2 separate regions of the Homo sapiens genome follow, and region 1 is reported to be linked to region 2. Evidence: microRNA targets listed by miRTarBase, many of them from high-throughput screens and not tested one by one. Region 2 holds a microRNA gene; the other region holds the end of a gene's coding sequence.

Region 1 (4,000 bases), not on the chromosome of region 2:
AAGACAGCTATGAACGTGAATGATCTCTTCCTGGCAATAGGTAAGGTCAGAACATCCTGAGGTCCTCCTTTTTCCCTCGTTTATAGGCAAAATTATAGCTAACCCAAATCAAGGATAGGTGCGAGTATCTCCTTTTGCAAAAACTTTAGGTATGGAAATACCTTAACTTTCTGTTATGACCTCCATCCTTGGCTGCAGCTTTAGCTCCCTTGTCTTCAATGTGTAAGTTTGCCGGCCAGGTGTGGTGGCTAACACCTGTAATCCCAGCATTTTGGGAGGCCGAGGCGGGCGGATCACGAGGTCAAGAGATCAAGACCATCCTGGCCAATGTGGTGAAACCCCGTCTCTACTAAAAATACAAAAATTAGCTGGGCGTGGTGGCGCACACCTGTAGTCCCAGCTACTTGGGAGGCTGAGCCAGGATAATCACTTGAACCCGGGAGGTGGAGGTTGCAGTGAGCCGAGATTGTGCCACTGCACTCCATCCTGGCAACAGAGCGAGACTCCATCTCAAAAAAAAAAAAAAAGTTTGCAAATAGTGAACCCTCCCATCTTCAGAACATTCTTTTAATCTCTCAAATTCTCCCTTTTCCCCAATTCAGTAGCCGTTTTTGGCGGGTGGAGGCAGAGGGGTAGGGAAGTAAAGTCTACCATACTTTGTTCTCTTCTCTTTTTATCTCTAGCTAAGAAGTTGCCAAAGAGTGAACCCCAGAATCTGGGAGGTGCAGCAGGCCGAAGCCGGGGTGTGGATCTCCATGAACAGTCCCAGCAGAACAAGAGCCAGTGTTGTAGCAACTGAGGGGGTGGCTAGCAGCAAACAAGTATGGAGCTAGCACAAGAGCTAAGAAATAACCTCCATCCCTACCCCTCAGCACACAACCCCTACGGTAACAGCACACTGAGCCCTGGCTCCCAAGGGCTGCCTCCTGACAGCTCCGTCATGGCACTTTTTAACGCTTCAGCAACAAACACCAGGCAGCTGTTGCCACTGGCCTCCTACCCCCTACTCTGGGGCTTGGGGGTCAACTCCCCCCAGGACTTACCTTCCAAAACAAACTTTCTTCACTTTGTATTATAGGTACAAGACAGCGACTTACGTATCTTTTCTCCTCCTCCCTAGTGTTCCTCCCCATTTTTTCAGAAAACACTTCTGACTCCTGTCCCTTCCCCTTCTGCTTTTGGTCAGTCCCTGTTCTTGAGCCTCTTTTCTCCTCTCCCCAGGATGCAGAAAGTGGTGAACCCAGGAACTGAGGAAGGAGGTTTCCAGTTCATTTACATTAAGGGCCCTGGGGGAGAATAAAGCTCAGAGCAGGAGGGAGTAAGGAAACATTTCCTTTTTGTTTTTATTTGGTTGGAGTTTCTCATATTTGAAAACATTGCGGTATCCATGATTTGGCCTTGTGGAGGGTGTTCCTAGGTAGAGGTGAGAATGGGGAGGCAAGATCTCAGGCACCAGGCAGGAGGTGCCTTGTAAGCTAACTGGGCGGAGGTGGAGGTGCAGTGTCAACTGTGGCTCTGTAACTCTTCAAAGGCCCAGTTTCCCCTCACGCAGCCTCTTAGGTAGCGTTTCCCCTAATCGTGGGGGTTGGACCCCAGAGTCTTCCAAAGAATTTTCACTGGTTGCCTGCATCTTTGGCTCTGCTGTGATCTGATTGGAGGAGGGACAGTTTCTGGTACCCATCCTCTGATTTATACATATGCATTTTTTCCCCTCTGGCCTTTAGATGGCCTCAGCCCCAGCCACCATATACCCCTGCAGTTTGCACTTTAATTGATGGTAGTTCAGTTGGGGTACTTGTTTTATGGAAGTTTTGATTGATTTACTTGCCCTCCCACCTTCTTTTTAATTCAATGAAATCTGAGGTTAATGCGAGGTTCGAGGAGAGGTTATAGATAAAACTACCAGTGGCAGCTACTCAAGTCCTATCTCCACTGTTAGCTTCCTCCAACTCTAATTATTAACCTATATTCTTGCCAAGCTAACTATTGACTATAGGTTTGCCTTTCCTGGAGAATTAATTGAGCAATTGAGGAGTGTCTCAGGATAGCACAGGCCAAGGTAGGGGAGTAAAAAGGAGGTCAGGCAAAAGGGAGGAGTTTTCTGTCCTTTCCCAGGTTTCACACTCAATTTGATATCCATTACCATGTCTTTTCTACTTCCTTGTAAATAGGTATGATCTTTATTCCCACTGTACAGTCTGTTCTATCCTCTGCCTCCCATCAGGCCCTGTTTCTTTGTTCCTTTGTTAATATCTTGAATTTAGTCCCTCCATCCTTAATCCCCCCATCCCTCCCCATCATGCAACCAGTGGTTTAATCCATGTACCAATAGGGGCTAGTACCACAGAGGCCTCCTGTGGTGCCCTCGTATCATACCACCTGTTCCTGTGGAGAGGGAATGACCGGCACTGAAGGTACCTTACAACTGGCTCATATTATCAGAGGACCTTGGTCCTTTCTAAATCTCTAGTCTCTCTTCATATCCTTCATCAGGTGTTTTAAGATGTCTCTGAGAAGCCATCAAGGCAAAAGAGAACTTTAAGTTCCTTGTTCCAGCCCGGAGTTTTGGGAAAGAAAGAAAGGAAAGGTCACAGTGACCTAGGATTGGAACCTTCCTGCCCTTTTGGCTTGCAGACTGCCTTCTATCCCAGAACAGCTGAGAAATCTATGAAGCTGAGATTCTGAAGGACCCAGCTTAGGTTCTTCCACTTAGGCCTCAATTCCCTTCCTTTTCCAGGGGCAGCCTTAGTTCCCATGGCCCTGAAACACACACATTTCCCCCTTCCTTTCCCAGAAGCCACTGGCCCCCCATAGCACCCAGTGCATCCTTTTTACAAGTGGAAGAACTAGGATGGCTTTCCAAAGTCTTCTAGAAATGAAGTTCTTTCTCTGTGCAGCTTTCCCCCTTGGAGCAGGAGTGAAGATGTTTCATTATCTTGGGCCTGGGAAACCACTTCCCCAGGCTTCTCCCTCCCCCCACCCCCATAGGAACAGGATTTGGCCTTAGCTTCTGGGCCTATCGGCTGCCTTCCCTCTACTTCCTACCACCTCTTCTGCCTTCCTTTGAGCTCTGTTGGGCTTGGGGATCTTAGTTTTCTTTTGTTTATTTCCCAGCTCATTTTTTTCTTCTGGTCAGTTTTTTTAAGGGGGGGTGTTGTGGTTTTTTGTTTTTGTTTTGCTTCTGAGAAAGCATTTGCCTTTCTTCCTCTCCCAACATAACAATCGTGGTAACAGAATGCGACTGCTGATTTACCGATGTATTTAATGTAAGTAAAAAAAGGAAAAAAAGAAAAGGGCATTGGAGTGTTGCTTTTTTTTATTTTATTGTTATTATTATTATTATTTTTGCTATTTGTCAGGTACTAGGAATTTGGAAGAAAGGATACCCAGTAATGTTCTACTGAATCAGAAACACACCTTTCCCTGCATCTTGATACATCTTTATTCCCTTTAATCTTTTCTTAAACATCTAGTTTAGAAAATAGCCCTTCTATTGCTATTTAATCACCCCTCTTCTAAGGCCACTAGATTGTTCATCAAATCAAACCCTATTATATCTTTTTAGGCCCTCTTAACAGAATGTATATGTGTAGGGTATGGTCTGTGGATCTTTGGGCCCACTGATCAGATTAGAGAGAGGGGTGCTATTTGAAGTAGTATACAAAAATGTATGTGCATATTTCTTTTTTTTTTTTTAATTGAGACGGAGTCTCTGTCGCTAGCCTGGAGTACAGTGGCACGATCTTGGCTCACAGCAATCTCCGCCTCCTGAGTTCAAGTGATTCTCCTGCCTCAGCCTCCTGAGTAGCTAGGATTACAGGCACGCACCAACACACCCAGCTAATTTTTGTATTTTTAGTAGAGACGGGGTTTCACCATGTTGGTCAGGCTGGTCTTGAACTCCTGACCTCGTGATCCACCCACCTTGGCCTCCCAAAGTGCTGGGATTACGGGCGTGAGCCACTGCGCCCGGCCGTATGTGCATATTTCTAGGATCCAT
Region 2 (4,416 bases):
GCTTCCAGGCAAACTCCTTAGCTCCCCTTCCCAACCCACTTGTTACTCCCAAGCCATATACAGAAATCTGGTGCTACCACTCATACCTCTAATTCTATCATGGCTCAAACCTGTAGGAAGGCACCAGTTGCTCTGATCTTCATGAATGGAGCCTGATCAGCCTCATTTTCCCAGTAGTGGATGTTTGCTGCTCAGGCCAGACCCCATATTTGATGTGATATGCCCCAGCATAATACATGGACAGTTATGTGCCCTCCTGGAGGTGCCAGCAGAGAGTGGCGAATATAACCAGCTGCAGTGGCTTGCGGTCTGCCCCAGAGCTTTGTAGATTTGACATGGAAATTAACTCTTCAGGCAACAATCCTAAAAGGTCTTCCTGGGACCAGTCAGGAAGCACCGATGATTGTATCTCTGATCCTGGACCAGCATGAGGACTGTAGTGTCCAGGCTGAATGTCCCTTCTTTCTATTGTTTTACATATTCATGTGCAGGAAGGAGAGCATGCCACATAGTATAGTCAGGAATCCTGCCTGTTTGAAAGAGTATAATTCTAGATATGAGAAAAACAATGGTTCAGAGTTTCCCACAAACCCTAAGCCAGAGGTGCCGCTTGTGGTTTTCAAAGTGCTTGCAAATTCTTTGACACTCTTCCCATCAAATAGTAGAGTTTATGTTCCCTCCTGTTGAACTTGGGTGGGCTTTTGTAACCGCCTTGATGAACAGAATGTGGCAGAAGTGAGGATAATTCTGAGTGAAGTTAGACATACAGCTTCTCCTGGCTTCTCTGGGGAGAACTGCTCTGTGGGGCATGGGCTTCCATGTACAAATCAAGATACTCTGAAAAGGACCACTTGGAGAGTCTAAATAAGTAGACAGATACCTAAGGAGCCCCAGTTGTTCCTATCCCCAGCTTCTTGAGTCTTCCCGGCCCAGGTGCCAGAGCTTTCAAGATGACCCCAGCCTCATCCACCACGTGACTACAGCCTCATGAGAGACCTCAACCCAGCTCAGCCAACCTGCTTCCTAATTTCCGATGCCTTGAAACCATAAAAGACAACAACTGCTTGTTCTCGTTTCAAGCCTTTACAATTTAGGGTGATTTGCTATGCAACATTAAATAACAAGACCACAGCCTGAGTAAATGAAGCTGCTGAAGGGAGCCCAAGAGAAACTCGGAATTACCTCCAAATTTCTCTGAAGAAAGGATTCGAGGTAAGGAAAAGATCTGCAGCTGCTTGTAAGGCAGATCATCTGTCTTCACCATGCTGAAAGAGCAAGGTGGACTCCTGCTTGAAGAGCACTGTAACTTACTCATGCAGTAATGTGGAATCAGGAAAGGAAAGTGATAGTAACAATTTGCTTACAATTGCCAGGGCAAGGGCAGAGACTTGGAGAACACAGTGGGAAATGAATGGTAAATATGTCATTCTCTACTGGAGGCAGGAGTGGGAAGTAATTAGCTGGGGAGGAGTGGGAGCTGGCTAAGGTCAGAAACAGTGACCTTACAGCATTATTATCTTTCAAATTCAAATACACTTCTATACCTCGCTTTGGGTTGCTGGGACAGAAACTGCAAACGACATTTCTATTTTTCCAGCCAGATACCTTTCAGGCTCTTTAGGGGGTGGTAGAGGGAGCCTGCAAGGCTGGAGGAAGAAGAGAGAATTTGCTGCCTCCTGTCTACTTCTTATTCCTGTGATGTCACCTGAGCAAAGCTTCTTCAAATGGGCAGAGGCACGGCCTTCTCACAGCAGCAGCTGAATCTGCTTTTCAATTTTGTCCCATTTATAAAACACGCTCCTTTGTACCCACTCAGAGACATTAACCCCAGCCAGCCAGTACCAACTCCTCAGAAAATTTGAGTCTCCAAGACTCCTACTCTACGTTTCCAAGTTTAATAATTCCAATCTCTTCCCTCTTTTCCCTCAGTTGAAAGGGTGGTAGCTGATGACTGCAGTTGCCACTTACCTCTGTGATACTTTAGAGATCTTTTTTCCCTTCTCAGTTACCTAGCTAATGGCTTTTTACCTAGTTGCAATTCTTCATATTAAAATTTTCCTTTTCCTTTACCTGGTGTGGCTTCTGTCTGCTGAATGGATCCTGACTAATAAAAGGTATTTCTTCCAAAGAAAAATCTATGATGGTAACTGAGGTTGGGGGTAACTGAAGGTTCAAATAGCAGGGAGATCAAGTTCAAATACCAAATGCAAAGACCACAGACAGAATTTGAAAGAGTGACCACAAAGTTAGGAGGTTGAAGGTGGGCAGAGACATAAGCAAAATAAGAGTAGGACTGGAACAAGATAGAAGGCTTAGGGTGATTGCTATGGAGGTGGAAATTATCAACCCATCCACCTACCCGCTACCCTCCCCCAGTCAGTAGGATGGGTAAAGCTGATTTAAAAACCTCAGGCAAGGCCAGGCGCGGTGGCTCACGCCTGTAATCCCAGCACTTTGGGAGGCCAAGGTGGGCAGATCGTGAGGTCAGGAGGTTGAGACCATCCTGGCTAACATGGTAAAACTCTGTCTCTACTAAAAATACAAAAAATTAGCCAGGCATGGTGGCATGCGCCTGTAGTCCCAGCTACTCGGGAGGCTGAGGCAGGAGAATCACTTGAACCTGGGAGGTGGAGGTTGCAGTGAGCCGAGATCGTGCCACCGCACTCAAGCCTGGGCGACAAAGCGAGATTCTGCCTCAAAAAAAAAAAAAAAAAAAAATCTCAGGCAAAAGTGGACATTACTTGTCTAGATTTGGGGTTGATGAGGGTTTTTTATTGGAGGTGGGAGTCGTTTTGTTTTTTTGAGACAAGGTCTCCCTTTGTCACCAGGTTGGAGTGCAGTGGTACGATCTCCGCTCACTCCAGCCTCACCCTCCTGGGCTTAGGTGATCCTTCCACCTCAGCCTCCCGGGTAACTGGGATGACAGTCACATGCCACCATGCTTGGCTAATTTTTAAAATGTTTCGTACAGATGGGGTCTTGCTATGTTGCCGAGACTTGCCTTGAACTTGTGAGCTGAAGCGATCAAGTTCTAAGAGCAGCTTATAATATGATTTTTAACGCATGTTGTCTATGATCATAGAGGGAGATAGACATGGAAAGAAAGAGGGCCTTTTCTGCCTTGTGCCTTTTTCCATGTCTATTCTAAGGACCAGGATTGCCTTGAGACCAACACTGTGAGAGCCCTGACTCAGTATCCATAGATATTCTATCTGCACATTGCAGAGCACTAAGCCAGTCCGCCTTCTCAGCTTCAGACTAGTCAGTTTCATGGACTTTCAGCATCTCTGTGTAGATGTTTCCAGGCACCTCAAACCCACCATGCTCAAGGATGGATCTAATCTCTTTTTTCATTCAGATTTCCCCCCCGCCGCCACCATGGAAAGCAGGTAGGAAACACTGGATTTCTTCAATGTAGCCCCCCAAAACAGAAACCTGGTTGCCTTTTCTTTTTTCTTTTTTTTTGAGATGGAGTCTCACTCTGTCGCTCAGGCTGGAGTGCAGTGGTGTGATCTCGGCTCACTGCAACCTCTGCCTCCTAGGTTCAAGCGATTCTCCTGCCTCAGCCTCCTGAGTAGCTGGGATTGCAGGCGCCCACCACCACACCCGGCTAATTTTTGTATTTTTAGTAGAGACAGGGTTTCACCATGTTGGCCAGGCTGGTCTTGAACTCCTGACCTCAAGTGATCCGCCCGCCTCGGCCTCCCAAAGTGCTGGGATTACAGGCATGAGCCACCACGCCCGGCCCTGGTGACCTCTTAGCATCTTCCCTTTTTGCTTCTTCTGGCTTCAAACTATTTGAAATACTCTGTGTGACACATCAGTGAACAAAATGAAGTCTTGTTGCCTAGTTGGGAAAAATGGAAAATCAGCAAAAGGTAAATCTGGGAAAGACTTTTTATTTAAATTATTTCTCTTTGAAGGGACTCATGAAAAATTGAGAAAATAGGGAGCGGTACTGGTCATGAGGAATGTGGGGAGGGAATCCTGAAATCTCCAGCTCTGATTTGCAGAGAAGGTTTGAGAATAAAGAGCTCCAAGAGCTGTTTGACTCATGTTGGCCGATCCTGAAATCCAGAAGTCCCCTGGCAGGAAACCCTCTGGAGACGACAGACTAAACCATCCTGCCATTGTCAGCCTCACAAGGGGCTCAGCAACTCAGCAAAAGGAAGTTGTTTTTTTGTATTGCACTTTTTTTTTGTCTTAAAGAGATATCCTTCTTAATAGTTACATTAATATCTTGAATAAAGATGGAGAGTGTATGTCAACTTGGAAGAGACAGCAACCATACTGGAAGTCAGAATCAGAATCTCAAAACATCTTAACATAAGGCTAAAGAAAGGGACCAACAACAGAAGAGAAATTAATAGGAGCAAAGGTAAAATTTTGTACTGAGGTTCAAAAAGCCACTTGTAG

Evidence for each region. The annotated mature microRNA hsa-miR-4430 reads AGGCUGGAGUGAGCGGAG and lies in region 2 at 2,850-2,867, opposite strand. An mRNA with a match to its seed (bases 2 to 7 or 8) in the 3' UTR can be bound and repressed. Matches are read on the target gene's strand: a 7mer-m8 pairs with bases 2 to 8, a 7mer-A1 pairs with bases 2 to 7 and ends in A, and an 8mer does both.
Region 1: the mRNA of RAB5B is a reported target of hsa-miR-4430. Seed matches in the 3' UTR shown: 7mer-A1 at 1,737-1,743 and 7mer-m8 at 2,552-2,558.

Annotation. Positions count from the first base shown.
Region 1 is chr12:55,991,414-55,995,413 of GRCh38, forward strand. It overlaps RAB5B (RAB5B, member RAS oncogene family), which reads left to right. Exons shown (of 6, transcript NM_002868.4): 5 at 1-40; 6 at 684-4,000. The coding sequence ends at 799. Among named protein-coding and RNA genes, the nearest start is that of SUOX, 3.9 kb to the right of the region's middle.
Region 2 is chr2:33,416,970-33,421,385 of GRCh38, reverse strand. MIR4430 (microRNA 4430) reads right to left here and starts at 2,870; the gene lies at 2,822-2,870.